Homo sapiens: one gene and its partners. The protein of the gene in region 2 purifies or fractionates together with the protein of the main gene of each other region. This does not show direct contact. Each region holds a gene or a part of one and is shown on either strand. Other genes may lie near its edges. The genes, in order: MIPEP, DEFA6, VWA1 and POTEE.

Region 1 (8,466 bases), on a different chromosome or scaffold from region 2:
TTTATTAAACATACGTATTAAAGTACAAGTTCTAAATATCACCTTTTCCTATAATATTTTCCCATTCCTAATGACATATTTCATCATAAAAAATTATACCCAATGGATCTCAGTTTCAGACATTTTTAACTTTATAATCTAATATTAATAGTAAACAACAAAGGATAAATTTCACTTAAATTTTAACAAGTTGAAAGAGAGGTAGCTTCAAGTCTGAGGTAAAGCACCTTACCAAGTCGGCCACTCTGCATAAGGAATCCGAGAGCTCATCGAAGATCAGCACGGTCTGGGGCCCAGGTGGGGTGGAACATGCACGGTCCACAAGCAATTCTGTCTTTCTCAAGGCTTTTTCTTGTGCAATATGAAATCCTTCTGGGGCACTCAGCTCAGGAACTCCAAAAAGACCCTTAGAACCAAAGAATACGTCTGATTTATAACCAAAATTCAAAATTGTGCTTTTTTTATATTTACTAAAATTACTTTTATCACAAAGGAGATCTTGACTTTCATTGGTGTATCATGTTATACCTGTGATCACAGATACCACTATCATACTCCCCATATCACTCCACATAAATTACACTAAAAATGTTTTCAGAACATAATTTTTCTTCAATTTTTAATTATTTTCCGGAAAAAACAACAACAACAATGGTATGGGTTCAAAATCCAGCTGTCACTTCTACAGAACCTAAGAGTGGCCGCAAAGATTAAATGAGATCATATATGTAAATATATATATATATATACATAAAGCAGTGTTTGGCACAGAGCATTTATAGATGTTAGCCATAATTATTATTAGCTTATAACCCTGGTCATGTTATTTCTCCTCCTAGGAGAAATATTTTTTTCATCATGTACAATGGGAATGACGATACATACCTTACAGCATGGATACAGGTAATAAGTATATGTAAAGTACTAACAGCAGCAGCTGACAAGGTGAGATCTCAGTACATAGTACCAATTATTCTATAACTATCAAATAGGGAGGATGAGTTGACTATGAAGCAATAGATATTTTAGAAAAATGTAATGAACATATTAAAATCATAGGCTGAAACTGGGAGCAAATTTTATACGTTACAAAGACATTTCAATATCTTGATAAAAACAAAAATCACTGATCTAATGGTAATGACCATTCTCTTGTTACCTATTCAATCACACTTGTTAGCACACTCAGGAAGGCAGGGGGAAAAAGCATTTAATATGCACCTACTGCATACCATGAAGTGTGCCTGCTACTTTACATAGGTTCTCATTTAAATCACACAATCCTACAGAACAGAGTATCATTCTTTTACAGATCAGGCCACATGCTTTAAGACGTTAGAAAAAACTTGTTTGAGGTCACAAATTAATATTGGGAAAGACAGAACTCGAACCCGCTCTGTACATCTGTAAAGCCCACACTTTTCCATACTTCTCTATTACAATTTATCTGTTTGAAAGTCTTCTCTCCTGAAAAGGTGAGCTTCCAGACCCAAGAGCCCTGCCCTTCATTTCTTTAACCAGCTATCCAATAGAATGTCTAACACATGGGGGAACTCAATGAAAGAAACAAGTGACCGGAGCAGATGCTAGGCTTTGTTAATTCACTTTGTAGGTGCTTAACGCATAGATTTTCAGAAATACGAACAGGTAAACCTTCAGGCCTGACAAGCCCTACTGTTTCTACAAGAAGGGATGGATGAAGTTAAGCTAGTAATCTCTCTTCAAAATATATTACAAGATAAAAAATAAAATAAAAGAAAGTCAGTGGGAGACAAAGGAAAATCAGGACCAAAAACAAATGTCATCTTTATACTGATTTAATTTGATTCAAGCACAGACTACTTCCACTTCCCAGTACAACCTGCCCATATTGCTCTCGGGAATTCTAACTATCGGATTACCAGTGACCATAATGCTAAAAAACTGAATAAGGCTTTTTTTTTTTCAAGGCAAAAATCAATTCTAAAATTTGAAAATCTGCTATCAGTGCCGAATATCATGATACAAAAAGGGAAAAATAAAAGCTAAAATTAGTTATATCTCATCCACCCAAAATCAGGCTTCCCCTCACGTCTTTCTGCTCAGCGCCTACAAGTAGGTCTCTTCACACCAACTATGTTAATACCAACACTACATACCCTTAAGGAAGGTGGTGTAGCAAATTTCACACAAAATAATTTTTAAATAGACAAAACTGATAATGGAGATAAAACAAGAATCACACACTTTAGCTCAGTGCAACAATACCCTAGACTTGTCTTTATAAGGCAATACAGTATAACGAAATTTTAAAAGGCAAAAATAAAAGTAATCCTTAACCTAAAACGGACAAAATGTACAAACTCCAAGTAGAACAGGCATCAGGTAAGTCCTTTCCAACCTTGCCTTCCTCTCACCTTTCACTAGACAACGCAGGCTAGTGACTTCCTGGGGTAAGAAATCAAAGTGACCAATTCCATGGCACTATGGGAAGTGAGACTCGTCTCAACAGAGTTTTGTGTTTTAAAACAAGAAAGCCCAAAGCTTTGAAATAAATTAATTAATAGATGATGGAATTTCAGGTATTAATGAAATTACCATTACTCGACTGCAGGCAGCCGTGTCCTTGCAAAAAGACCATGTGATGCCGCCTGTGAACGCACAGGGATAGGCCTCTTAAGGCAGGACTGTAGCGCTGGAGCTAAAGGGCTTTAGCAGGGGTGCGCCTGAGTGTATGCAGAGGGCGGGTCCTGGCAGGACGAATTCACCGCCACTGCCAGAACGAACTATTCAGATTCACGTGGAGCAAGGGGCTCATGCAGAAGCAGTTCCCGGACCCGACACTCTGGGTAGGAGACCACTAAACCCGGCCCCTCAAAGCAGAGGTGACCTTGCCCTCATCGAGAGCGCACACAAGACGCCACTGTAAAAGGTGGGTTCGCTGCTCGCCTCCTCCCAGGCCCAAACAATCTCGCCCTGATTGTTGCTGGCCGCGCGGAGCAGGGGTCGGCTTAGCTCGGGGACTGAGGGGAGCTCCTCCTGCGCCGCTCACCCGGCGCTCGCCGAACAGGTCCAAGCGGCTGCCCTGGGGCTTGACATTGAAGGCGGCGCCCACGGGAGACCAGCTGGTGCTGACCCTTCGGGCCCGGATCCCGGCTTCGAGGCTTCCCCGGCCCGCCCGGCGGGGCGGCAGAGCTGCTGCTCTGGCTCCCAAGCCGCCCAGCCTTCCGACGCACAGCATTCTAGCACCAGAGCAGTCCCTTCCTCCAACGCAGATCCCTGCCCTGCTGCTTTCGCTGGGAGCGCGCGCTCCGCGTTTCCAAGGCAGCAGCCCACGCCGCCCCACGTGACGGCCCCGCTTCCGGGTCTGGGCGCGGCCTCAGGACGTGGGCACGTTGTCGTCCAGAGAGCAAGAGCGTCGCTCCCCCTCGCCTTCTCGGCCGCCCTCCCGGTTTACCGCCCCCTGTGTCCAGAGTAAGAAAAGGCTAGGGTTGCGCTTCCCTCCCAAGTTGACTAGGGGTGGGCGCGAGTAAAATCATGACATATTCGAATTCCAGTGGACATTAGATATTCTTTGAGAGACGGCAGGTACTTGAGTAAACAAGAAATGCCCACCATAGGCCTGAAGGAGAAGTTTCCCTTTTAACCTACTCTCTTGGTAAATTTATCCTGCACTTCTCTGTTTGGTGTCTCTGTCCGGTAACTTTTTACTCTTGCATAGCTCAGTTAAAAATTTTAGATGGGAAATAGTGAAAGAAGTCTAATGGGATTTTCCCTCCAGGGTTTCAGAATTGCCTGGGACCCGTGAACCCTTTTTTCCTTCCCCTTTCTCTCTTTTGGAATGGATTGTCTACCCTATGCCTGTCTCCCCCTCCAACCCCCGGTCTTTTAGAAGTGGATTAACTCGTCTCGCTTCACAGGATCACAGATGGAGAGACATTTTGCCACACGATGAATCACACAGTAAGTCTCCTCTGTAGCTTATTTAAATGATGTAGATGGTGAGAGGAGTTGATGCGGAAAGTGTTAAGACTTTTGGTAATGTTGACATGGTGCGAAAATGTATTTTGCACATGAGAAGGAAATCAATTTTGGGAACCAGAGGGCAGATTGGGTTGAACTGTGTCTCCCAAAATAGATGCTGAAGTCCTAACCCTCGGTGCCTGTACATGTGACCTTATTTGAAAATATGGAGTTTGCAATTATGATTAAGATGGGTCATACTAGATTAGGGAAGCTGTTCTTGTAAGAAGAGGAAAATTTGGCTGATACAGGAGGAGGACAGCCACCTGAAGATGGAGGCGGGGACTGGAGTGATGCTGCCACCAGCTGCCAGAAGCTGGAAGCAGCAAGGCTGCATCCTCCTGTATCCCCTTTGGAGGGAGGATGGCCCTGCTGCTACGGTGATCTCAAACTTCCAGCCTACAGAACTGTGAGAAAGTCCGTTTCTGTTGTTTAAAGACTCCCAGTTTGTGTACTTTATTAGGGCGATCCTAGAAAACAAGTAGAGATTCATGTCTGGCAAATAATGATCAAACAATGATTTGTTGGATAGAATGGTGATTAAAACCTAGGTTAGAAAATGAGCAAAATGGGAGGGAAAGCACCAGGACAAATAGCTAATGCATGCAGGGCTTAATACCTGCATAGGTGATGGGTTGACAGATGCAGCAAACCACCACAGCACATTTTTATGTAACAAACCTGCACGTTCTGCATATGTATTCCAGAACTTAAAAATACATTTTTTAAAAAAAGACAAAATGAGCAGTGTCTACAGCTTTCTGGAGTGTGACAGCATCACCAGCTTAAAGCTGTTACTAGTACTAAATGGAATAAACATTTCCCTCTAATTTCCCCTTAATGTCCTCAGAAACACAGATGAGGGATACATCTTCATATGACTCCTCAGAGCACTAAAATGATATCAAAACACTCTTCCCACAAGAAATGCACAGACAAAGGATTCTTCAGATAATAGGAATAAGAAATGTGAAATAAATTAGAATAAACCATGCAGCTATTTTAAATATTTACTCCTGGAAAAATAGTAAGTTACATAGAATCAGTTTTGGGAATAACTTTTCCGTTTTCACCTTTTTATGATTATTGTAATAATTGGAGGAATTAATAAAGTAAAACCATCTGAATAAGTTCATCCCAAGCTGATTCTGATGGATGGTCTGGCAGATTTATAAACTCTCCTCTGTCACTGGCTGCTGAACAGAAGGAACCCTGTGAAAGTTGTGTCATCGTCCTCATCAGCAAACAAGCCATTGAACCTCTCTCCTCCTGTCACCTGCAGCCACATCTCATCCCCGAGCTTCAGCTGCAGGACAATGCTGCCAGAGGCCTGGTCCTCAGAGCTCACGTAAGCATCTCTGGTGTGCAGTATTTTTACTCCGTTTTTGACCAAAGACACCTGAACATTCCTGGAGAAAACAGTGATGTGGTAGGTGAAGTAATAGACCCCAGCAATGTGGCACGTGAATTTCCCCACTGCTGTATCATAATGGTTGAATTCATTATACAGGATCTTATCAAATTTAATGGGCACATCTGAAGAAGGAAACTTGCTCAGCACCGTGAGCCCCACAGTGAAAGCACTTTTTGGCAAGACTAGAGTCTCACCGATTTTCCCTTTCTCTCCTCGATCTCCTTTCCAGCCTCTTATTCCCCGGACTCCTGGCTCACCCTGGGGCCCCGTGGGTCCAGCTTCTCCCTTGGGACCAGGCTTTCCAATAGGGCCCATGGGGCCCGGTAAACCAGTTGGGCCCAAAGGCCCAATGTTGCCCCTTGGCCCCTCAGGACCAGTGGGACCCACGTCACCCTTATTCCCCTTCTGCCCCTGAGGCCCAGTCTCTCCTCGGAGGCCTTTCTCTCCCATGGGCCCTGCAAGCCCCTTGGGGCCATGTTTTCCTGGGGATCCTCTTGAGCCTTGATCACCTTTGATGCCTTTTGCTTCAACTTTTCCATCTGCTCCTAAATAGAGAAAGAGCAAATAAAGAGATAGTTTGTGAAAGATTCCCTTGTGAACAACTTTGGTTTTTCTATAATTGAGCTCACAAATGAAACAAAGTAGTACACAGGTTCAGTATATGCCCAGAGTTTAAAATTCAATTACTCCATCTGGGTGCGGTGGCTCACACCTGTAATCCTAGCACCTTGGGAGACCGCGGCAGGAGGACTGCCTGAGGCCAAGAGTTCAAGACCATCCCGGCCAACATAGCAATTCCCTGACTCTAAAAAAATAAAAATAATAAAAAAATAAGAAAATAAAATTCAATTACTCCAGCCCAGCTCAGTGGCTTATGCCTGTAATCCTAGCACTTTGGGAGGCCAAGAGAGGCAGACTACTTGAGTCCAGGAATTCAAGATCAGGCTAGGCAACATGGCAAAACCTCATCTCTGCAAAAAGTACAAAAATTAACCAGGTGCGGTGGCACACAATTGTAGTCCCAGATATTCAGGAGGCTGAGGTGGGAGGATGGCTTGAGCCCAGGAGGCTGAGGCTGCAGTGATCCGTGATCAAACCACTGCACTCCAGCCTGGGCAACAGAGTGAGACCCTGTCTCAAAAAAATAAATAAAAGTCAATTACTCCAATTACACACGTGTGTGCACATGGACACACACACACACATCCCAACACACCTTTTGACTACTGTCTACTAAATTAGTGTCAGGGCTCACATTAGAAATTACAACCCTACCATCTAAGTCTACCATGCTGGCTATTAAATAATGTCAATCCATGACAAAAAGCACTCTGCAGAGCAGAGACAGACAGATTAACTGACACTCAACCCTAGTCGTGACATCCTCTAAAAACCTCCTCCCTGGAGTGAACATAAAATAAAGCCTGCATCGAGGCATTGCCCTCTCCTGCCCAACCCCAGCCCCAACCCACCTATCCCACCGGCAATTCATCATCTACAGAAACCTTGCTGCTTCCTTGCACCCCCACCCATACCAAAGAGCCGTCGTTGCAAGTGTGGACTCTGAGGCTAAGTGCCAGGTTTCCATTCTGTCCCCATATGCACACAGGACGTCAGACGAGCTAGTGAGCCTCGTGCCTCTGTTCCCTCACCTACGGAACTGGGGTGATAAAACTACCTAGTGTCTGGGGATGTTGCATTTGGTGAGTCAGTACATGAAAAGCACAAAGTGAAGATTACACAAGTTTGCCACTACGACTACATCCCAACCCATCAGGGACCAGTTCTAGTGCCACCTCCTCCATGCAGTGCTGCCAGATGCACCAAGTCAAAAACTCAGTCTCACTCCTCAGTGCTCATCCACTGCAAGGTTCAAAGTTCAGCAAACTACAGCCACAGGCCAAATTCAGCCTCCCTCCCGCAAGCAAAACAAACATGGTTGACATTTTTTTTGTTTTTCTGGTTTTTGTTTGTGACAGGGTCACTCACTCTGTTACCCAGGCTGGAGTGCAGTGATGAGATCATGGCTCATGGCAGCCTCAAACTCCCAGGCTCAAGTGATCCTCCCATCTCAGCCTCCTGAGTAGCTGGGACTACAGGCATGTGCCACCATGCCTGGCTAGTTTTTTTATTTGTATAGACAAAGTCTTACTATGTTGCCCAGGGTGGTCTGGAACTCCTAGGTTCAAGCGATTCTCTTACCTGGGCCTCCCAAAGTGTTGGGATTACAGGTGTGAGGCATGGTGCTCGGCCATGGTTTGCATGTTTAAATGGTCACAAATAATATTCCACAATACATGGAAACCATGGGAAATTCCCATTTCAGTCTTCACACATATGGTGTCACTGGAACAGAGCCATGCTTATTTATGGAGCATCTACAGCTTCTTTTCACTACAAGGGGAAGTTGAGTAGTGGTGACAGATCTGTGTGGAGTTGAGAATATTTACTACCCAGCCCTCTGCAAAGCCTGCCAATCCCTGCAGAATCCCCCCATCTGGAGAGTAAGAACTGTGTTGCCTTTATTATAAGATTATAATCAGCATGGAGGACTTGTCCATGGTAATATTGTTAAATAGTCGACAGCTCAGAATTAGAGCACCATAAATAGGAACTACTAACCTCGTTCTCCCTTCTCTCCACTCGTCCCATCCTTCCCCGGGCTGCCAGGACATCCTGGTTCTCCTAGGTGGAAAAGCAGAAAACAGGCATGAGTTGAAATTCCATTTCTGATTTTTCTGGCCATTGGTCTCCATCAGCCATGTGTTGGAGAGTCTGGGGGTGACCCCCGCCCTGACGGGCACTCTGTCCTCCACACGAGCGCAGGTGGAGAGAGGCAGGCATGAGCGGGCATCTGGGGTGCTGAGCTGCGTGGGATAAGTGACCTAAGAAATGAACTGAGTGACTTCCCAAGCGCCCATCTCTAGGACGTGCCTAGAGCGCACAGCAAGACAGGACGAAGAGGGAGTGTGTGCAATGGGGACTGACTGTCACAATTGATTGTGTTCCTCTCCTGCGACAAGGACTTGGGACGTGGTCTGAATGTTGGA
Region 2 (7,119 bases):
GTCAGGGTTGTTGTTATACCCAGGACTGTTGTCACCCTCTTGTCTCTGGACATAGTGACAAGGGACAAGGCAAAGAGAGAGGGCCTGTGTTCTTGTGGACATGTGGTTGGCAAGGTTCTGGCCAGAGTCGGAAGGGCCAGGACCCCACGTTCCTTCCTCCTATGTTTGTATCCCATTCAAACCAAGATTAAAATTCTAAGCCCTCCAGCCAACTGAATGGACGCCTCCTCTCAGCCCAAGGCATTCTAGTGTTAACCTCAAACACTGGTTCAGGCCATGATGGGACGTGGGGATCAGGAATACCTCATGATATCCTCCTCCCATTGGAATTCAGGCACAGCTGGCCAGCATTAACATTAAAACAGAGTGCCTAAGGCCACGTGCGGTGGCTCATGCCTGTAATCCCAGCACTTTGGGAGGCCGAGGTGGGCGGATCACTTGAGGTCAGGAGTTCGAGACCAGCCTGGTCAACATAGTGAAACCCTGTCTCTACTAAAAATACAAAAATTACTTGGCGTGGTGGTGGATACCTGTAATCCCAGCTACTTGGGAGGCTGAGGCAGGAGAATCACTTGAACCCAGGAGGTAGAGGTTTCAGTGAGCCAAGATTGTGCCACTGCACTGCAGCCTGGGCAACAGAGCGAGACTCCATCTCAGAAAGCAAAAAACAAAAAAACAAAAAACCCAAATCCTCTCTTCTCTCAACATCCTCTCTACCACTTCTCTGGTCTACATAGAAAACTCTTTCGAAGAGCTAGTGTTCTGAGATACGACTTGGGTTTTTGTTTTTGCATCTGAAGAATCCTGAATTATCAAACACCAGAAAAGCACAAACACAAAAGAACTTGCTGAAAGGACTTTATTTGAGATGAGGAAACAAAGTTGATGGCAATGTATAGGACACACGACAGTTTCCTTCTAGGTCATAAAGTAAATTATGAATATATTTCTCTCTGTTCTCATCCCTCAGAGGCAGCAGAATCTGTGGTTAATACCCATGACAGTGCAGGTCCCATAGGAATATTCTGTTGAATAACAGGACCTTCTGCAATGGCAAGTGAAAGCCCTTGTTGAGCCTGGGGACAGAGAGAGAGAGCATCAGAAATTGAGCACCAGGGTCAGCAGCGGGCAGTAAAGAGAATCTTCAGGAAGTTGCATGCTTGCTGACATGTAATGCTGGCTGCATTACAGCCAATAGCATGATCACACCATCAATAGGAATAAATACGCAGAGCAGTGTTGGTCACACACAGGATTAGAGAGCCATTCTGATATGCTGTACTTATCTGCTCCTTCCCTGTCACACACACATCTGAATGCACCCATATGACTGTCTCCAGTTTGCAACGGTTCCTATAAAAGTCAGATTAAAAAACATTCCTTTAGCAGCTGGATGTGGTGGCTTACGCCTGTAATCCCAGCACTTTGGGAGGCCAAGGTGGGTTTATCACAAGGTCAGGAGTTCAAGACTAGCCTGGCCAAGATGGTGAAACCCCGTCTCTACTGAAAAAAAAAAAAATACAAAATTTAGCCAGGCTTGGTGTCTGGTGCCTGTAATCCTAGTGACTTGGGAGGCTGAGGGAGAGAATTGCGTGAACCCAGGAGGCAGAGGTTGCAGTGATCTGAGATAGTGCCACTGCACTCCAGCCTGGGTGACAGAGCGAGACTCCATCAAACAAAACAAAACAAAACAAAGCAAAACAAAACATTCCTTTAAAATTAGGCTCTCTTCCTTGAAGTAGAGACTCCTCAATACATTTCTACATGGCAAAAAATTAGAAAATTTCATAGACTTATCATAGAATTAAAAAATCTTTAGAGAAAAGTCATGCCTTGAATATCACTGATTCTTCCTTTTCAGTACAAACATAAAGTAATTGAGGCCTGGGGAGGTGATCACCTAAGAGAAAGAGCCAGCTGTTGGATCTAATTCTAGAAGTGCTTGGTTTTCCTCTCTACACTCCTAGCTCTGCAATGCTGGTGTCTCTTACCCAAAGCTCTAAGACTTGAGCTTGCATCCTCTGCAAAGGAGACGGCAAAGTCCTGGTCATTTGCCCCACGCTGCTCCTGGGCATCAGCCTCATAAGCTTTTGCCTGCAGTGGATCATCCTCAGCTTGGAGTGGCTCAGCCTTGGCCTGGAGGGCCACGAGGAGAACAGCAGTGAGGATGGTGAGGGTTCTCATGGCTAGGGTCGCTGGAGGAGAGAGAGCAGGAGCAGATGTGTGGGGAGTGAGGAGCCAGCCTGGATTTATAGGTCTGCTGGGAGAAGGCTCAGGGACAGATGTTGCGGTGAGACGGGGAGTGCATGTGATTGGGGAGCAGAAGAGCTACCCTTGCCCTCCATGTCCCTTTGATGCTCCTTTGTTCTCCAAGCTTCATTGTAGTGTGAGGCTGTTTATTGAGTGTCTGTTCTGGTCCCAGCTGATAGTGATGATAAGAACAGTGTTACATTGTCCTGTTTTCCATCTGCTGGAATATTTACTTGTTAATATTCAAAAAAGAAAAGAACAGTGCTTTCAATGAATAATTTCAGGAATCAAATGCCTCTTATTTTCTGAAGGTGGGGCTGGCCACTCTCTGGAGGTCTAGACCTTGAGGCCAGAGCTGGATCCCGCTAGAGTAGAGAGTTAATTCATTGCAGGATTCAGGGGGCATTTCTGCCCTCATGAAGGAGGCTTTGAGATTATGGGGTGAATAGGCTCTTGTGGGGCACAGTGTGGAGAAGATAATGACCTTATCAGCCTATAAGGGAAAAGAACTCAGTGGGATACTAGGTAAAGAGTTAGTAAAACTAAAGCCAAAAGATTTATTTCAAGAAACCCATGTGATCTGAATGTATCAACTAAAATATGTACTAGGTATTTCTCTCCACTTTGAGAAACATCGAAACAATTGACATGCCCACAATCCCCCTCTGAAATTTTATTTTATTTTTAATTTTAGAAAATGTTGAATTGCCCACAAGGACCATTCAAAGGGTAAAAGGAGTAATGAGCCTCCATCCTTGCCCCAGCCCTGCAGCTCTGCTCCAGGAAATCTCCACTTAAAAATTAAACATTGGTTTGTGCTTTGTTTTTTCTCCCTAATGCTGTAATTTGAATACTTTGTAGCTCAAAACATATAGAACTCTACCATTATTTTCATAGTCTCTTGTTTCTGGTCTTCTATTCAGGTATTTTATCCATTTTGAGTTAAGTTTTGTATATGCCAAAAGAGAAGGGTCCAGTTTTATTGTTTTGCATATGGAAATAGTATTCCCACCACCATTTATTGAAGAGACTCTCCTGTCCCTATTGTGTCTTCTTCATGCCATTGTCAAAAGTTACTTGACCATATGTGTTTCGATGTGTTTCTGGACTCTCAATTTTATTTCACTGGTATGTGTCTGGTTTTATGCCAATACCATATTGTTTTGATTACCGTAGCTTTGTAATATAATTTAAAACCAGGAATTGTGATGTCTTCAACTTTGTTTTTTTTTCTCAGAATTGTTTTGTCTATTTGGGTTCTTTCACCATTTCATACAAATTTTAGGATTTTTTTTTTTATTTCTGTAAAGAATGCCATGGGGATTTTGATAGGAATTGTGCTGAATCGGTATATTGTTTTGTTTGGGATAGACATTTTAACAATCTTAATTCTTCCAATTTTCAGCCCAGGATATCTTTCCATTTATTTTTACATTCTTTAATTTCTTTCACTATTTTTTTTTTTTTCATTTTCAGTGTGTAGATCCTTCACCTCCTTGTTTCTTCCTAGGTGTTTTATTTTTTGATGCTATTGTACATGGAATTGTTTTCTTGATTTTTGTTTCAGTTTTGTTAGGGAATCTATGGGCATTTAAAAATGCATTTGTTCTGTATTTATTTGAATTTTGCCTTCATTTACCCAGCAGGAGATGACCATTTAACTAACATCTAAATTTCGAATTAAACTTTCCCTCTCCAACCCAAACTGTAATTGTCCATTGTGACTTATAGCTGTCTATGCCTCTTTCCCCAGTAGTTCATGGGACAGGCAATAATTACTCTATCACCTGGAAATCCTACCCTGGAGCTGTTACTCAGATACCCTGATCTAGCTAACAGGACAAGATACTTCTGTAAATAAGTGATCTAATTTGTCTTGACTTAAAGGAGCATTTTGGAATTGTATGCTCTATCTTTGGAAACTAAGAAGTGTTCCCAGCCTATTTTAATTGAAATAGAAGATAATGCAGACCAATCCCCATGGGCATTGGTAAATGTTTAGACAGATGGGGTGCAGGAAGGCTTATCAGGATCCATATCGCAGCTTGTAAAGTCACCACAATCACCACGCCAACAGACGGAACGCCTGGAAGTAAACAGAACTTCTAGAACAGTAGAACATCAAAGGGTGTCAGGGACAAGGGAACTTCACGTAGTTCCTTTCCCTCTCTCTACTTACCTTCCTGCCCCTAGAGTCACATACATGCAAATACTGAAGCACAAGCTCTATTTTGAAGAGCCCATTTACTCTAGGATCCAGCTTTCAATGATCATGCACAAAATCGAGGCAGGTATATCTCCCCCTTGTTTAGCCATCAGGCTCCTGCAAGAGAAGTAACCTCCCTACCGTGACCCGCAGTCACGAGGACCTCATCTCTGTTAACTGCCTTTCTTGAGTTAACCCCACCCCACTCCCACATGGAAGCCCTAATAAGAACCGAGCATCTTGGAGATGCCACCGAGATGAAGTTGACTTAGGCCAAGGGCTGTCTCTGTTGTCCTCAGTGGCTCCAGCATACCTCCACCCTGAGATGTCCTCACACATCAGACGCTGACCTAGCAGAGCCCACACTATCTTCCAGTAAAGAAGAACCTGCCCTTACAGAGAACTGGGCGCGCAGCACTGCAGTAGCACCTTAAGGACAGCAGGTGGCCCTCCTGCCCTTAAACAGGAGTTGACCCAAGAGGGACTTCAAATGGGAGCGCTGTAAAGTGCTGTTCAGCAAACACATTGCTTTCTTCTGCACCCCAAAGTGTACATATTACAACATTAGTTCAGGGGGCACAGAATACACTGCTGCTGGTTCCGTGTCAGCGGTAGCTGCTGGCCCTGGAAGGCTGGCCTGCCCCGTCTCTAACCTAGTGTCATGATGTCGTTCCCCCTTGTGCTGGCTGCGGGGCTGAGGACCTGAGTCTGGGGGCCTCTGCTCTTTCTCCTGGGTGGCAATGCTCCTGTCCCTGCCTCCTTCCCAGTCTGTGGTGGGGACTCGACAGCCAGGGCAGGTCAGGTTCTCAGTCTGTGCTGAGGTCTCACCTGGGCCTTGCCTCTGTCTCCCCCAGGTGGCTCCCAAACCCCAATTAGAACAGAGTGAGTCTGTATCTCGTGGTCCCTTTCACCTTTCTTTCTGGGCTGCACCAGAACCTTGGCAGAAATCAGTGGTTTAAGCAAAAAATGGTGCTACATGTAAAAGTCTTTGCAACACTTTCACTTCCACCCCCACCCACCCTGCCCCCAGCACAGTGTCCTGGACTTGCCACCAGTGTCAACTCTGAGTGTAGACACAACTGAAACTGTTCCTTCATACACATGCAGTTCAGCTTTCAGACACTCAACAAGAGCCTTGACACCCTCAAGCTGGGGTAAATATCCTGGGGAAGCTACAGGTGGGGGTGCAGGTGTGGGTGTGAGAGGAGAAAGGCCTTCAGCAGCAGCAAGGATATTCCCACACTCTCTGAGGCTGTCTGGTGACCCCAGCAGACACAGTGAGTGTGGACCTTGGGCAGGGCCCTGGGACATGGTTTTGACCCAGTGTGGAAGGGCAGTTTTGGAACAGAGTGTGTGTGTTAGCGTGGGGTAGAGCGGGGGCTGCGTGGGGGTGAGCTCTGAGAACTGTCCATCTCCCAGCCCCTGAGAGTGCACCGCCCTGTCCCTCCCCTCAGCCTTTTGTCCACCTCCCTGCAGGGAGGGTCCTGGTGCTGCCTGTGCCACACAGCAACTCCCGGGCCTGCAGATCCAGCTGGGACAGGCAGGAGCTCCAAGTCCCCTGCCCTTTGTCTGCCTTTCCCAGCCGCCTCTCACATGCTGTCTATGTGTCTGGTGTTGTTGCCTGCAGCAATTTTTACAAATGACTATGAAAGAATAACTCTCTTGGGCTGTTTTAAAATGTGGTCCCAATTCTTGGACTCTTCTCCCACAGAAAGGGAGGTTTACTTCTTTCCTGTTGGATCTAGGTCGGGTGACATCTTCACCAATAGAATGCACCTGACTTAGTACCATGCCGTTTGCTGGGCCCAGGTGCTAAGACACTGGTATTTTTCACTTTCACCGTCTTGGATGGCGCTGCAGTTGGAATATTTTTGTCCCTCTGAAATTCATATATTGAAATATTAAACCACCAGGTGATAGCATTAACAGGTGGTGCCTCTGGGGAGGTGAGTAGGTCCGGAGGGCACCTCATGAATAGGATTAGTGTCCTTATAGAAGAGATCCCAAGGAGCTCCTTCATTCCTTCCATCAGGTGAGGACACAGTGAGGAGGTGCCATCTATGAACGAAAAAGCTGGTTCTCAGCAGACACCAAATCTGCTGCCACCTTGATTTGGACTTCTCAACCTCTAGAACACTGAAAAATATATCTGTTGTTCATAAGCAACTCAGTTTATGGTATTTTTTTTTAAATAGTGGCTCAAACGGACTAAGAGGGCTGGTCACTTGGGGGCCCAGACACCGTGTTTTGAGGAAGCCTCAGCCTCGCACAGGAAGATGAACTGAGGGCACCTGCGAGGGTGAGCTAGAGAACACAGAACAGCCAGCTTTCTGGGAAAAACCAAAACTCTGATTTACAGTGTTTGTAAATTTCTGTGGTTAGAATCCTCCCAGCTCTGGACCGTTTAAAAAATGTCACACAAACCACCTTTCTCATGAGCCGGCATGATCTGGCCCCAGCGCATCACAAGGTCCCATCCCTCAGCCCTGTGAGAGCTCCCAGCTGAGCCAGCACTGCCTGCCACCTGTGCGCGAGTGTCTCAGCCCTGAGCTCCTCAGATCCCAGCAGAACCTCTCCTCTGAGCCAGGCCCAAATTGCCAAGGTATGAGTGAAGACCTGATGGTGCTGTTTCAGTCCACTATGTTTGGGATATCTTTCCACAC
Region 3 (8,216 bases), on a different chromosome or scaffold from region 2:
TCTGGAGATTGGAGGCCCCACTAGGAAAGACGGGGCCCCGCGGCCAAGGAGCTGCTGGAGCCATGCCCCGCAGATGCTGGGGATTCTCAGAACGTGCCTTGGCTGGGGGAGGACGGAGGAAAGGGTGCAGCCCCCTCAGGCCCTGTCAGAAGCGCCCCTGCCTCCCTTAGCCCCAAACCCAGTCCTTTGTGGAGAGGTGCAGTGGCCAGATCAGTGACCAGGACAAAGGTCCTCAAAGACGGCAGAGTCCACGGTGGTGCCTGAGAGCAGAGGACCAGCCCCAGCCTGAGTGGCCAGGCCGGGGTCTGAGGTCAGCCCGGCTCTCTGAGCTGCAGCTAGGAGATGGGAGACCACAGGGGCAGGCCCTGGGGTTCTGGAGGCGCTGCCTGCCCTGGGTCCCCAGGAGAGTGTGGGGTGGGGTTCTCCAGAGGGGGACTCCTGGACCTGTGACACCAAGCCCCACATAGCCCTCTGAGTGACCCTGCTGTGGCGAGGCTCATAAATGTCTGCGCTGGGTTAAAGCTATCAGGATCTTCCTCCTGCAGTGCTGGGTGCCTGGGCCACTTTCTTCCCATCCCCCACCCTCAGACCCGGCCTCTTTCCCAGGAGCCCCCACCCTGCTGCCTGGCCCCTCGGCACTGCAGCCTCAGGCTTTTCCTTTGGCTGCTTAAGGCAGCCTTTCCTCCTGGTCCCCTCCAGGCGCAGCTGCACTGGGTGACCTGGGGCCACTAGGGGCCAGACGTCCCTGGGGAAACCTTGGGGAGGGCCGTCCACCCCTCTCCAACCCACAGTCCAACCCCTTCCGGCTCTGGGTGGATGATTAACCCACAGACGGAGACTTGGTGAGATCCCCAGGGTTGGCATTTTTCAGTGGCTGCAGCAGGCTGAGCCAGTGGCCGGTTCCTCATCTCCAGCCCCAGCTCCTTCAGGGCTTGGCTGGGGCAGGGAGGTCCAGAAAAAAAGCCAATGGGAGCTGCTCAGCTCCTGCCTCAGGCCTTCCCTGGTCCGGCCTCTCAGGAAACCCTCACAGTGGGCCTGCAGTCCGAACTAGTTCAAAGCCCTCGGCGGCTGTCCCCACCCAGGAGAGGTGCCCTGTGCTCTCTGGGGGGGCAGTCCCTGACCTTTCTGGCTCACCCCTCTCCAGGTATGGTGGGCATGCTCAGGAGCACATGCTGCCCATCTGCAGAGTCCCCAGACTTGGAAGCTTCTTCCTGGGCCTACACCCGGGCTCTGCACTCCCTGGGGCCTCGAGGTCTGGGCTGGACACATCAGCAGGGAGCTACACCTGGAGGTGGCTACTCAAGCCTGCCCCCGTCTCAGCAGGGTACACGGGTCGCCCAGTGAAGAGTGTGCATAGACAAGCTGCATCACTCAGCCCTGCACCCTAGGGGTACCACAGCCCCGGAGGCCCTGGCCGCTGCTCTGGGGACATGAGATCTTCCCAAAGTCTCAACCCAGCCTCTCCTTCTGCGGCTCCCAGCTAGGGCTCCCTGGGCCCTGCCTCCTCCCGCATACCGAGAATGGAGCCCCTCAGCTCTTGGACAATGATGTGCAGGTCATCCACGTCCACAAAGTGCAGGTGCTTCTCGGCAGGGGCTGAGGCAGCGGCTGACAGCTCCAGGAAGTTGCCTCGGCCGGTGCTGACAATGAACACGGTGACGCCCAGGTCCTTGAGCTCCTGCATGGGGGGGCCCACAGGGTCGCTGGAGCCGCCATCTGTCACCCACACCAGCACTTTGGGCACCCCTGGCCGGGCACCTGATGCTTCAGCAAACAGCTGTTCCTTGGCATAGACCAGCGCCAGGCCAGTGTGGGTGTCACCCATGCGCTGGGCAGAAGCACGCACCGCATCCTGGGCAGCCTCACCCGAGCTGTGCTGGCCGAAGGGGAACTCGGTGTATGGCCGACTGCCCACGTGCACCAGACTGGCACGCAGGGCCCCGGTGCCCAGGGGCAGTGGAGCCACCAGCTGCCCCACAAACTCCCGAACCCGGGAGAACTCGTAGTGAGAGACGCTGGCTGAGCTGTCCAGCAGGAACATCAGGTCCCCTCGGGGGGCTGATGCTGGTGGACCTGGGGGAAAGGAGGAATGCTCAGCCTCAGGTGTGGGCCCCCCAGACAGCCCCACAGCAAGGCAGGGTCCCCCAGGGCCCCAGCTTTCCTTAAGTGGATGCTTGCCTTCTCCCAAAGGTCCTAGGTTGGGGGAAAGAGGAACTCTAAGCAAGAGGCCTGTACTTTTGGGGGTTTCACTGCACACTGGCCATGGGATCTAGGGCTCTCTCTGGGCTTGTGTTATCCCATCTGTGAGAGGGCGACTCTCCGCTCCAAGCCCCCACACCTTCCCATTCCTCACAGACCCTGCAAGCAGGTGGAGCCAAGAGTCCTGGCCTAGGCCCCCAGGACAGGCCTGAGCCGTGGGGCTGTTCCCTCCAGGCATGGCTTTCAGAGGAGCAGCCTGAGGCTGGAGTTCAGCCACGCAGCTCAGCCTGCAGGTGAGGCACCCTGGGCATGCACACAGCAGCAGGGGAAGGTGTCGGAGGCACAGCAATGACCACGCCGGATGGCCTGGCTGGAGCCCAGACCCCGCTTACTAGATGGTGGCCCCTCCCCTGGCCTCCATCCTCCAGCCCACCTGGACTCACACAACAAGATATAACCCCCAGCAGCCTGAAAGCCGGAACAGCCCCTCGCAGGCTTCCCCCTTCCTCCGGGCACCTCCGGGGTGGAGGCTGATGCCCCCTACACCGCCCCTCCCCACCAAGCCAGGGCACCAGCGTGCCTCAATTCTAGTCCCGGCCTTGCGGTTTTCCCCAGTGCGGTGGGGCGACTCCAACTTCCCTACCATCCCTCCACTAAGGGCCCTCGCAAGGGTAGGGAAACTGAGGCAGGGGTGCCCCCTTGACAGACATCTCCCTCTTCCTGTCCAGGCCCGCGATCCCGCAGAGATGCGGGCCGGGACGGCCCCTATGCCCCGGCGCTCACGGACGGTGTCGCCTGGAGCACCTGGGCCGCCAGCCTCAGGTGAGCAGGACGCTCCGCCCGCGCCCCCGCCCGGCTCCCGCAGCCTCCCAGCCCGCCCGCCCGTCCGGAGCAGGGGACAGCGACGGCCTTGCGCGGGCAGCGGCGCAGAGCGGTCACCAGAAGCCCCAGCCCCGGCCCGGCCGCCCGCCGCACTCACCGCGCTCCGCGCCGCTCCGCGCCAGCGCCAGCCGCAAGCTCAGGGCCAGGCCGAGCGCCGTCCAGGGGAGCATCGCGCGCGAGGGACGGGGCGCGCTCGGCAACTCGCTCGCTCGCTCGCTCGCTCGGGGCTGCAGGGCGCGTCACCGCGCGGACCAGGCCGGCCCCGCCCCCGGGAGGCCCCTCCCCGAGCGGCCACACCCACGCCGAGGCCACGCCCACGCCCTCCGGCGCGAGCGGAGGGCCACGCGCACAGACCCCGGAGAGGCGCGCACGAGCGGACCCCGACACGCAGGGACACGCAGCACCAGCCGAGATACGACCGAGGCACGCACGCGCAGGCACGCACACACACACACTCCAGTCTCCCTCTCCCGGCCGAGGCTGTGCGGCCCACGCTCTCCACCCCTCTCCGACCCCCAGCCGCGGGAGCCGAGCAGGGAGGTACCAGGCTAGGCCCTCCCCATGCCCACCACTGCCGTGACTCTGGGTGCTGGGGTCCCAGCAGCCAGGCCCAAGAGAACCCCAGGGGCTGGCGGTGGCACCAAAAAAACACGTCCAGACCGTGGTTTCGCCTTGGCCTCCGCGCTGGAGGCGGATAGGTGTCTGGAGTAACAGGACATGTATCCCAGGGACTGACCAGCAGGGATGGGAAGGACCATGGGGTGGAACTTACAAGGACACAGTGGCTTGAAAGGGGACAGAAGACAGGAATTCGAGAGAGACTCGAAGCACCCACGCCACCTGGGCTTCTTGGAGGAAGAGGCATGGGAGTGGGAGATGGTTGGTTGAGGCCCTGTCCAGTGGGACCACACTGGGCCTGTTACCCATATACCCTACCCAGTGAGGGGCCCAGACTCCAGGACCCAGGACACACCCCCAGCAGGACTGGAGGGTCCCACTGGTGAGACAGGAGCTCTTGAGTCTTGGGGTCTTGGTGAGGCCCAGACGAGAGGTGGCTGGTTGCAGGGGGCGTCCTGAGGGACAGTGGCTCCCAGGGCAGATTTCCCCTGCTTGGGTGGGGCTGGGCCAGCAGTGTCCCCTGGACAGGAGAACCCTACCCCGGCCCTCCCTCGGAGTAGCCATGGCCCTCTTCCAGGGCCTCCTCAGCTCAGAGCTGGGAGGTGGGGGACGTGGGGGGGTGTCTGCCAGGATGTCTCCTCCTTCCCCACCCTCTCCTGGAGGATGCGCCGCGGGAGAACGGATGGGGCTCCACAGGCTTCCTTCCTCCCTTTCAGGCAGGTGAGACACCGCGGGGCCGTGCGGACGGCCAGCACTCGACTTTGCCTAAAAAAGGAAGCAGCAGGCTGAGGCTGAGGAGCTGGCGGCAGGAACAAGGGAGAGCTGTGTCCCCGCCGGCGCCCCCCACCCCCCCTGCCGGGGATCTTGGCAGTGGAGGTGCTGGCTGCGCTCCACAGACCTCAGACCTCGGCTGGGACCAGAAATGCCTGGTGCTTCCGCCTGGGCCCGGTGGGGGGACTTTGGGTCCCCAGAGTGCAAGCTGTACCACTTCGAGGGGCCTCGCCAGGCCCCCCAGCCCCCAGTACACAGGGGCTGCCGTGGAGATGACGCTGAAGGCCGCAGCCGCTGGAGGACCTGGGGTCTGACCGGAAGCTGGCTGCAGACCCTGCGGAGGCACGTCCAGGTAGTCAGGCAGGGAGCTGGGCCGAGGGTCCCCCACCCTGGGGAGGCTCACAGCCAGTGGCCCGCTTGTCCCCCACCCTCGCCCAGCAGGCGGGCCACAGTCACACCTCAGCCAGCCTTGCAGGGCTGACGGGGAAGTTTCCCTCACTTCTGGAAAAAGTGAGCGGGTCTTCTTGGCTGTGACTCAGGCCCTCAAGGAAGCGGCCGCCCTCCTCCCTTCAGCTCGCCATCAGCGGGAGAAGGCACAGGAGGCCTGGCCTCCACCCAGCCTGGGCCGAGCTCAGCCACCTGCCTTGCTCCCGGCTCTGCCTGGAGTCCCTCCAGCTAGGAGACCCTCCCCATCAGCTCTCCCCGTGCCCCTCAGTCTTCAGGACTCATTCTTGTGTCCTGCCCTCCCCCCGCTGTCTCCACCCCGGAGGAGGGACGTGGACAGAGGGTCCCAGAGAGCATGGGGTCAGCCAGAGGTGCAGTGTCAGGGCCCGGGCCGGACTTGAGGCAGACACCGGAGGAAGCACAAATATAACAGCCGGAACCCTCCACTCTCCAGGGAGAAGGGCCCGGGGTAAGAGGCAGAGGCAAGGACGGGTCAGGCCAGATCACAGTGGGTGCTGGCCCCGAGCCCTCTGCCTCCTGCAGGCACAGCCCCTGTCTGATCCTGGTGGCCTGGGGCCCCATGGGGTGGGGAGCAGCCTGGTTTGGCTGCGGCCACCCCGCCCCCACGGTCTGGGCCTGGGCTGTGGGAGTCCCTGTGCCTCACTTCCCGGAGCCAGCCTGCCCTGCCGGTCTGTCTGCAGGCAGGTGGAGAGAGTTCCAGGAAGCTGGGGAGGCTGCTGTCACCCGGGCACCGCCCCTGCCCCCACCCGCCTTTGGGAATGCTCCCTCCTCCGCACAATCCAGGCTTCTGCAGAAGATGAAGGGCCTTTTGTCCCCAGCTGGCTGTGGTCATGTTTGACCCTGGGTAAAAGGGCAACTCCTGAGGCCTCTGACCCCACCCCTGACCCGAGCTGAGGGCAGGACGCCCAGGCCCGCACCCGGCGCCTTTTGTTGCTGTTTTCACGTATCTCACAAACGTACTCAAGCACACACAGGAGCAGATGGACGGGGCGGTGAGGGGCAGCAGTGGTGAGGGGCAGCGGCGGTGAGGGGCAGCGGCGGTGAGGGGCAGCGGTGCGGGCCTGAGGCACTGCTCTGGGGTGTGCCTGAGCCCACCCCACAACAGTAAGTGGGGCAGAGCAGGGGTCACCAAGAGAGCAGGGCCCACGCAGCTCCTAGACTCAACCTGCTCACTGGGGTCAAGGACAGGTCTTGGGGGCCTCGGGGGTCACTTTTCACTTCCCAGGAGCCCAGGCCTGCCCCTCTGGCCCCAGAGCTGACCCCCCTCAGTCCCCCGTGCCAGCAGCAGCTGGGGTGGCGGGTAGACACCTGGCGGGTAGCAGCCTGGGTAGGGGTGGGAGCTGCACCATCTGCGTCTGTCCATCCATCCCTCGTCTGTGTGCTGGGCACAGCCGCGCCCCAGCCTCAGTGCTGGGGACACACAGGCGCCGGGCCAGCACTGCCAGGCTAGGAGGGTGGGCGGTGAACAGCTAGGAAAGATACGGTCTACTTGTTTTCCCTGTGAGAACAGGGGGTCACTGGGGACTCGCACGCAAGGGGTACCCGAGGAAGAGCCTTCCAGGCAGAGAGAAGGAACCGCGAGTGCTGAGAGCAGGGTGGGGTGGGCAGGAGGGGCCTGCGCCAGGACTGCAGGGGCAGAGCAGGCTGGGGGCCTTCGGGAGGGGTGGCCGGGTGGAGGGTGTTGCCGGCCTCGACAGGGGCAGGAGGTTCGTCACAGCGAGGACAGAGCCCGGCCCGGTGGGAGCCGGAGAGCAGCAGGCCTGAATGACCCAGGGTTTCCTAATAGCAGGGCCCCTTCCTTGTGTGGGTCCCCTCACTTTGCCTCTCTGCTGGGACATCCTTCCCTGAAAGGGAGAGGAGGACCACATGCTGCCCCTTCCCCAGACACAGTCCAGACAGGCCCAGGCCACAGCCCTGGGCAGACGCAAAACTCCCAGGGGCCTGGACTGGGATAGGGAGGAGGCAGCAGGGAGGGACTGACCTATGTCCACACACCACAAGGGACTCCCAGAGGCGGGTGGGGCGGAGCTGGGAGCAGGGGCCTTAGCCCTCAGACCAGCCCACTCACCCTGGGGAGTTCCTGCCCCACAGCCTGCCCAGCTTACAGGCCTGGGGGCAGGGGCAGGCCAGCACAGGCCGGAGGGACAGAGGGAGCCACATCTGAGGGGTCCCCCAGCTGCTCACACCGTCTGAGGCTGTGCTTGCCAACAACTCTGCTCCCAGGAAATATTTTGCAAATCAGGAAATGACACCGGGCAAGGTGGGAAGCCCACTGCATCCAGTGGGGTGGGGCCCCTTACTGCCTCCCCTGCTCCGGCATGACGTGTGACAGGGACGCAGATGGGACACACACAGCCACACACACACACTCCGGGCTCCCATTTGGGCAGGGCAGGGGCCTCAGCCACCGGGAAAGAACGCCAAGCAGAGGTCCCCACAGCCACCCTGCAGCTCGGCTGCACCCAAGGAGTTCAGGCCCCTGGGCCAGTGGAGAGCTGTGGTAGAGACTGCAGGAAGAGGGAGGCTGCTCCTGGCCCTCAGGCTGGGGGAAGGGGCTCTGGGGGAAGGGGTGTAGAGGCACCCTCAGGGTGGGGGCGGGCCTGGGGACCCAGGGTCCTGAAGTGGAGGGGTTTCGGTCAGGGACACCATGCTGGGCAAAAGTTGGGAGAGATTCATGGGGTCCAGGTGGGGTCCTGCCCCTGCAGGGGCTAGAAGGGCTGGGCAAAGGCCAACTGTATACCTGGGGCCTTGAGGAGGGGAACCCTGGCTGGGGGCCCCACCTCCCCCTCATTTCATGCCCCCCTCCTGGCTTCCCAGATGGTGGCCGATAAGGGAGCTGCTTAGGATCCATGGAAGGGGCCAGGCAAGAACCCGGGGGAAGAACCCAGGGGCCTCAACGCAGGGCCCGTTCTGTCCTAGGGGGTGGGGCCCCTGCCTTCCAACGTGGGGCCTCTTCTGTCCTGGGGGTGGGGCCCCTGCCTTCCAACGGAGGGCCTCTTCTGTCCTAGGGGGTGAGGGGGTGAGGGGGTGAGGGGGTGGGGCCCCTGCCCCGGCACTCGGGCTCTGGCCTTCCTGAATCGCCCCTTCCTTGCTTCTCTTCCGCCGGCCAGGCCTCTGCTCTCCGGGGCTACGGCCTCCCACAGGCACGTTCCTACATCCCTCTGTGAACCGCCCACAGGCCCCCCCACAGGTGTTCCTCTGTGAGCTGGTCGGGCGGCCGGGGCCGGGGCCGGGCTTCGCTGCTCCGTGCCTTCCACCTCCCTGGCGGTGCGGGGCCTCAG
Region 4 (7,835 bases), on a different chromosome or scaffold from region 2:
GTAGCAAATTCTAAACCACTTTTTGTCAATTGACGCTGTATTATGGACTATCCAGTGTGTCTCTTAAGTATGTAGAGCTTTGGCATAATCAGCATGGCAGTTTTAAACACTAAAAACCATGGAGTTATTAAGAATACAGATAGGAATTCTGTTAATTTAGTTTCAGTAGTCCTATGAACTGATGGTTTAGTTAACAATCTGGGAAAATTAAATACAAATAGATTTTAAATAAATAAATGTTGGAAAATTTTTTCAAATGGGCAGTATGAGTTTTAATAGCAATTTTTGTTGCATGTTGGAGGTTGAACTTTTGGTAAAACATGAAACTAAAGAAATATTTTACATGCAGATTCTTGCTTTATACACAATTTGTCTTAGGGTTGAGGATATAGAGACAAAAGATACAGCCCCTGCCCTCAAGAAGCTTTTTGTTTAGATGGGAAAAATATTATCATCCAATAACACCATGCCAAATGCTGGTTTAGAAGCAAAGAGCCTTGGAAGCAGTAAATGTTTAAAGTGAGTTTTTGAGATGATTAGAGTTACTGTGGTGAGGCAGAGAAGGGGTGTTTCCAAGGGAAGGAGCAGCGTGTGGGAAAGCACAGAAGAGTGAGAAGGAAGCGAGTACATTTTATTTACTTTCTATGCGTGTAAGTCCATAAGATCTTACATAAAGTTTCCACTTTGGTTGAGGAATATGTACTTTTTTGAATTACATAGGTTTTTGCTTTATATTGTTTTACAGCATGGCCTCACACCACTGTTACTTGGTGTACATGAGCAAAAACAGCAAGTCGTGAAATTTTTAATCAAGAAAAAAGCGAATTTAAATGCACTGGATAGATATGGAAGGTATAGTTCTTTCTTTTAATCTGTGTGTTCTAGATGGACAGCAGTCACTCAAGTCATAAATATTAAATTAATAAGATTAATGTATACTTACTGGGATGTAGTGATCAGTATCAACACAAATCAGTTAGGTAGAAAAACAATTACTTGGGCTGGGCAACATAAAGAACAGTTTTAGTAGGATTCATCTTCTCTTATTATATTGACTGATGTTATTTGTTATGTGACATTTTTGGTTACATGATCTTATGTTAGCTTAAAGGATTTCATATTAATTTTATGAAGTTTGAACTTTAACTTTTAGTTTACTTTATGACTCAGTATTGAACTTCTTAACCCTTTCTAATAGTTTTTAACCTGTGTCTTACATGCTTTTCCATTAAATCTGCTGTATTAAACATAAATAGGGGTTGAAAATCCTTTTGTCTTTTTAATGACTTTGCTTTAAGTTGCTTTCTTTGAAGAATATTAGTGTTAGCTTATCCCTACATGACAATTAATTGCTGTTCCCACATACTGTGGGTTCAACAGCTTTTTTCCTTTTGTTTTTCCAGTGTGTTTTGATGTTTTTATTTTTAATTGGTATGGAGAGAGGGAGTGAAGATAGTTTTAAGTGGATACACTTTTCCTTTAATGAAGACAAGCCGTACGTGGGTGATAAAGAGAAAAGAGCTAGGCTTTGGATTCACACAAGACTGGGTTTAATTAGTAACTTTCTTACTTGCTAGGTGTGTGACCTTGGGGACGTTATTTACCACCAAATATGTTGTCATATATGAAAAGTAGGAGAATATATCCTTCAAAGTTGGCTGTGCATAAGTAAGAAAGATACATGTGGCATTTAATTCAGTGCCTAGCACATGGTTATTGGCACCATTAACTGAAACTCCTATGACTACTATTCTTACCATTATTATTACTGCTTTGAGCATGCAGAGAGCTCTTATTTCTCTTACCCCCTAGCTGATTTTCTATTACAGCATGTCAGTCTAGGGAAGCTGTGACAAAATCTTCACTTAAATCTTTGTCCACCTCAGATAAGTGGCCCTAACATTGTTTCTTGCCCATCAAAGGACTTTAAATTAGTAGCTTCTGCTATGCAATACCCCACTGAGATAAGAGGGTTTTTTTTGGTCCCTTCCTTTTAACCTTGGTGGCATTTTACAAAGATGAACACTTGAGCACTCAAGATGCTTATGTCTTTTAGTGCATGTAAATGTTTGATTCTGCACAGACAGGCAAGATGTTACATTGGTAAAGTATATCAAATTAGCTTTAAAAATAACTTTATTACAGTTCCTATCTCTGTCATTTTAGGACTGCTCTCATACTTGCTGTATGTTGTGGATCAGCAAGTATAGTCAGCCTTCTACTTGAGCAAAATATTGATGTATCTTCTCAAGATCTATCTGGACAGACGGCCAGAGAGTATGCTGTTTCTAGTCATCATCATGTGTAAGTGTTTACATTAAAAGGCTAGTTAATGCTGAATTGAGGTTTAAAATAATTATAACAGTTGCATCTCACATATCAGGTGAGATGTCATAGTTTGGTTCAGGTAGTTTTCGCGTGGCAGTGAGTTAGTCCCCTGCATCAGCCAGAAATCAGACAAAAAGCAAGACAAGTTAGAAGTACCAATGGGTGCGGGATTCTTTATCTCAGGACTTTTAAGATCTTTATCCTTAGAGATCCCAGCATTGTTCATTTGATCCAAGTGTAACACCTATGCAGGGATAAAAAATAGTGTCACATCTTTAATTTTTCTGATTAGTTATTTGGGTCTTGAAATGTCTAGTTTAGCGGAAAGTCTTGTACTGTCTTCTGGGGACTATGTCCTACATACTCCTTGAATTTTTCAAGAACCGAAGGAGTTCACTAAATCCAAGGAAGACAGTCCCTTTTATCAAGTCAGAAGGAGGAGGAAAAAAGACATTGCAATCATTCTGTTGTTTCCGTTGATTTTGTTGCTGCTTTGTGGCCACTCAAACTGGTCCTGCTGCCTTAAGATGAATCAGTAGATTCAGATCCCTCAAGTCTTCATGGCGATTCATACAGTGACTTTGATGTTTTTTAATTCCCATACCTATGCTTATATGCTCAGCCATTGTTCCCAGAGCACCAGCCCCCTGCTCTGGCCGCTGGGCATCTTGACTTTATCCGCACACAAAGTGACCAAATTGACCCTTCCCCACATATTCAGAACCTAATGTGGAACCCACATCTTAGCCAGGAATTAGCTGAGACCTTCATGGTAAGAGATCCTTTGAGGCTGTTGTTGGTCTTTTCTCTGGCAGATGTTAGGTGGGCTTGTTCTAAAGGGTGAGAGGGGTTCAAATAATGTGGCAGAAAGAGGTCAGTGTTTGTTTCCTCTTTGCTACCAGATCTGTACTGTGAGGCACCTTTATATCCTGTATAGAACCCAGTAGAAAGTCCCATATGAACCTTGCCCTGAGCAGTGGCTCCCAGCTGTGGTTGGCCCCTTGAGTGATCTGATTTACATGATAATGAAAATTGTCGGAGCTACTTCCATCTCTAGCTCAAGATTTTAAGATATTTTCAAACTCTAGCTCACAGGAAGCCATTGAAGAGAATTCTCAGAATCTCAAGTAGGTTAGTTGGACTTCACAGAGCCAAGCCTTGTCCATGACGCATCACTAATCATGTGTAAAAGTAGGGCTTTGTGCTTGCTTCGGCGGCACATATCCTAAAATTGGAACAATACGGGGAAAGTTAGCATGGCTTCTGCATAAGGAGGCAGCACAGATCTTTGAAGCATTCCATATTTTGTGCAGTCACTGGAAGGTCATTTGACTATTTGCTGACTAGCTCTGAGGAAATAGTGTGAATCAAAGCAAAATGGGTGCCACCCAAATATTGAAATTGTGATTTGTGCTGCAAAAATAGTCATGTAAGATGGTCTATGAGATGACTTAGACCTGAATAACATGTTCGGTGCAAAATATATTGTTAGTATGTATGTCGAAAATTACAGAATGTCAGCTTGCTACTTCTCTGTGGAAACTAAAAAAAAATAAAAGTAGACTTTTGGTCTCCCATGTCAGCTGGAATTGAACATCAATATAAAGCATTATCCTAACAGACATCTACTGGCTGAGAGTTTGAGTCTGTAGAGAAGGATCGTTGGTCCAAGTCAGGTCTTAACATCCATTGGTTTTTCTGCCCTTGGTGTGATTGATCAACTCCGTAATAGTGGACAATCACATTATCTACTTTAATGAGATATTTATGAATAAATTTAGTTACAAACTATGACATAGTTGAGATGCCCTGAATTATAAGCCATAAAGAGTAGGACAACTAAGAAGCAAAATTAGGACTTAATAACATTTTCTGAAAACTACAACATTTGTATATTAGAACCTATGAACAAAATATGCATTGGGTTTTATTTGGGATTCCAAGATAATTTTAGTCATAAAGTTTAGGAACAGATTATTCCATTGCTTTACTATTTCTCTGAGCATTTAAAAAATGTTATCTCGTTAAACCTTTATAACAACCTAGTGAAATAAGGCAGCAAAGTCCTCACTTTGTTGAAGAAGACATTGAGCCTAAGAGAAGCAAGTTGTCCAAGAACAAATAGCTGTTCATTATGGAGCTAGGACTTATTTAGAGTTGGGACACTTTCTATTATGTCATGCTAATGCTAGCTAATTTACTGGGTCACAGTGCCCTCGATTTATGACTATTTCACCTTACATTTTTTTCTTCTTTAATTAGAAGCTTAAAGAGAAGTTTGTAGAATGTATTCATAAGTGGATGGGATAATACTATTAAGTTCTGTTATTCTGATATTGTTTGAAATACTCTTAATAATTCTACATTTGGTAAGTTTTTTTTATATCAGTATTAAAATAGTAATTTGGTTTATTACATTTTTATACATAGAATTTGCCAGTTACTTTCTGACTACAAAGAAAAACAGATGCTAAAAATCTCTTCTGAAAACAGCAATCCAGGTAAGACTTGTGATAGTGAATTACTTTAGTCAGTTGTCCCCAACCTTTTTGACACCAGGGACCGGTTTTGTGGAAGACAATTTTTCCATGGGCTGGGGGAGGGTGGGGATGGTTTCAGGATTATTCAATCATGTTACATTTATTGTGCTACTTTATATTATTATCACATTGTAATATATAATGAAATAATTATACAACTTACCATAATGTAGAATCCGTGGAAGCTCTGAACTTATTTTTCTGCAACTGGATGGTCTCATCTGGGGGCAAAGTGAGACAGTGACAGATCATCAGGCATTAGATTCTCATACGAAGCACACAACCTAGATCCCTCAGATGGGCAGTTCACAACAGGGTTCATGCTCCAATGAGTATCTAGTGCTATCACTGATCTGACTGGAGGCAGAGTACAGGCGGTAATATGAGCCATAAGGAGTGGCTGTAAATACAGATGAAGCTTCCCTGGCTTGCCTGCTGCTCACCTCCTCCTGTGTGGTGTGGTTCATAATAGTCCATGGACTGGTATGAGTCTGTGGCCTGGGAGTTGAGGACCCCTGCTTTGCGTGGTCCTACCATAGATAAAAAAGTAAAAGTAAGGAATTTTTGATCACAAAAGAACACTGAAGCACAAGTCATGTTACATATGCTTGTCCCAATAAGGTCTCACTATTACTGACTTCATTCCTCCTCATTTGAAGTTGGAAAGAGATATATTTACTTTGTTGGAACAAGATGTGTTCTTCTACCTGCTGGTTAATTGTCATCATAACAGTAATTTTGTTAGAACAAGATGCTCTGCTACCATTTGCCAAAAGATTGTCATAATAAATATACAAATTGCCCAACTCTAGGCTCAGCAGATTATAATAAAAGCAGAAAAACGTTTCACACTAACAAAAACGCTAGTATGCTACCTGGTTGTGGACACCTAATACATTTATAGTCCAAACTGTATGAGGACACCTTTAATTTAGCCATCTATTTATCAAAGAGCTTTTGTAAGTTAGGTTTTATAAGTTGCAGGAGACAAAGATGGAATAGATGTAGTTTTGATCTTTAAGGTGCTCATAATAGAGCTGTCTCCATTTCATTTCTGTGGTTTTTCAACAGAATTTACAAAGAAAACATTTCTATTTATGTTTTCACTTGTCCACTTAACATATAACTATCAAATGTCTTTTAGATAGTAACCATTTTTCTAATGCTATAGACCACAAACAATTAAAAATACAGACAGGAGCTTTTTGTTATCATTGTCATTTTCATTATTTTACTACTTTATTCAGTGCTTACTGTGTGCTAGATGCCCACTGGAAGCTTATAATTATGATTTATTATATATTGATTATGTGCCAGACATATGTGATGAGGAATGAAAGTTTTGGGAAAAAGTAGGTATGATTTAAGGTAAGCATGCAGAGAGAGAAGAATTTTTCTAGGTAAAGAAGCAGAAGAAGAATGTTTGGCAGAAGGAACATGCAGCGAGGTCGTGTGTTTGCCAGAAGGAACATCTAATGAGATTGCCTGTTTGGGAGGAAGAGCAGCAAGTGCAAAAGACAAGATGCTTGAGTGAACATGGCAGGGTTTCTGAGCAGTTCACTTTTGCTAGTACCAAAAGTGTGTGATACGAGAGGTTGGGAATGAGGTGAATACTTAGCTAAGGCAAGTTTATGATAGACTTTTTAATACTATAGAAATGAGTAGGTCTTATCCTGTGTGCCATGGGAAATTTACCGGGTAGAATGCTTTGGACTGCAAATACTAGATGAACAGTGGCTAAAACAGTAGGAACCAGAGTTGTTTTGGTTGTTCATTGATATCCTAGGATCCCACTTTTCCCTCTTTCAGCTGTGCTGTTGACAGTGTTTTATTCACGTCTCCCTTCATGGTTGGCTAATCCGCAGCAGCTCCAAACATCTTGTTCTCACAACACAACATCGCAAGGGCTGCTTTTCTTCACATGTGTCTTTTAAACAGGGAGAAAACTTAGAAGCATGCAAAGGGCTTCCTGTAACATTTCACTGGCTGGGTCACACCACATGCTCATTCCCAAACCAGGCACTGGGAAGGTAAATACCTGATTAGCTTAGAATAATCATTTCTGTTTCTGAGGCTGAGGAGGGGGATTGGGATAATAAATATCCCAATAGACTTGGATTTCTTCTTCAAGAAAGAATAAGGAATGGCTATTGATAGGGAGCCAACAATGTGTGCTGCAGGGGCTCATTGGAGAAATTTGAGCAGGGGAGTCATAAGATTAAATCTGAGTATTAAGGCATTCTGGTTATGGTGTAAAACGGGTTAGCAAGCTTTTTCTGTAAATGGCCAGTTGGGCAATATTTTAGACTATGTGGTCTCTGTCATATCTACTTAACCCTGCTGTTGTCTGCTGTTGTAGTGTGAAAGCCACCATGATTATATGTAAGCAAACAGGCATGACTGAGCTCCTATAAAACTTTATTTACAAAACCATAATGCAGATTGGATTTGGCCTGTGGCCTATAGTTTGCTGGGATTGATGGAAGGTTCTTTACCCTGTAAAGAAACCAGGAGACAAAGGAAGTTTTCGCAGTAGTCAGTTATAGTTTCCTTGTCATACATCCTTGGAGTAGCATCAATGTATTACAAGGTTTTCACCCGTCCTTAGTGAAATACATAAAGTTAGGAATCTCAACTACTTGTTTTAATATGTTGGCCTTTTTTTTTTGGTGTTATGCTTTTTTCATTTGTTTTGCTTAATTTTTTTCATGTAAGAAATAACATTAATAGTTGGCAGGCTTTTTTTTAAATAAAAGCCATTTTGTAAATGTTTGTGTTCCCAGTGGCAGTGGGAATATAAAGCAGAGGCAGAAGAGCGGTATCGTCAATATGATTTAGTGATAATTGAATGAGAAAGGCTTGGGGGACAGAGAGAAATGTCAGATAATTTCCAGGTTTCCAGGTTGTACAGTAGTATTTAACCTGGATGTGAGGACGAAGGAGGAAATTTTCTGGTGAATACAGAAG

What was found.
Region 1: the proteins of DEFA6 (region 2) and MIPEP purify together in Homo sapiens (affinity purification with mass spectrometry; 2 studies listed by BioGRID and IntAct, with this or other methods). This does not show direct contact.
Region 3: the proteins of DEFA6 (region 2) and VWA1 purify together in Homo sapiens (affinity purification with mass spectrometry; 2 studies listed by BioGRID and IntAct, with this or other methods). This does not show direct contact.
Region 4: the proteins of DEFA6 (region 2) and POTEE purify together in Homo sapiens (affinity purification with mass spectrometry; 2 studies listed by BioGRID and IntAct, with this or other methods). This does not show direct contact.

Annotation. Positions count from the first base shown.
Region 1 is NC_000013.11:23,886,101-23,894,566, forward strand, and holds the start of MIPEP (mitochondrial intermediate peptidase), read right to left. Parts: upstream 3,301-8,466; 5' UTR 3,221-3,300; coding exon 3,032-3,220; exon of another isoform or gene 2,581-3,031; coding exon of another isoform or gene 2,578-2,580; intron 407-2,577; coding exon 233-406; intron 1-232. Other genes in the region: C1QTNF9B (complement C1q and tumor necrosis factor-related protein 9B precursor), read right to left, coding at 5,189-5,961, 8,039-8,101. UniProt on the Homo sapiens protein: Cleaves proteins, imported into the mitochondrion, to their mature size.
Region 2 is NC_000008.11:6,923,852-6,930,970, forward strand, and holds DEFA6 (defensin-6 preproprotein), read right to left. Parts: upstream 2,226-7,119; 5' UTR 2,185-2,225; coding exon 1,992-2,184; intron 1,077-1,991; coding exon 967-1,076; 3' UTR 846-966; downstream 1-845. UniProt on the Homo sapiens protein: Host-defense peptide that contributes to intestinal innate immunity and mediates homeostasis at mucosal surfaces by forming higher-order oligomers that capture bacteria and prevent microbial invasion of the epithelium.
Region 3 is NC_000001.11:1,430,784-1,438,999, reverse strand, and holds the start of VWA1 (von Willebrand factor A domain-containing protein 1 isoform 1 precursor), read right to left. Parts: upstream 3,311-8,216; 5' UTR 3,252-3,310; coding exon 3,179-3,251; intron 2,074-3,178; coding exon 1,516-2,073; intron 1-1,515. Other genes in the region: uncharacterized protein LOC107985729, read right to left, coding at 3,850-4,464, 4,598-4,804, 4,929-5,037, 5,712-5,767. UniProt on the Homo sapiens protein: Promotes matrix assembly. Involved in the organization of skeletal muscles and in the formation of neuromuscular junctions.
Region 4 is NC_000002.12:131,226,078-131,233,912, forward strand, and holds part of POTEE (POTE ankyrin domain family member E), read left to right. Parts: intron 1-745; coding exon 746-852; intron 853-2,166; coding exon 2,167-2,304; intron 2,305-4,758; coding exon 4,759-4,829; intron 4,830-7,835.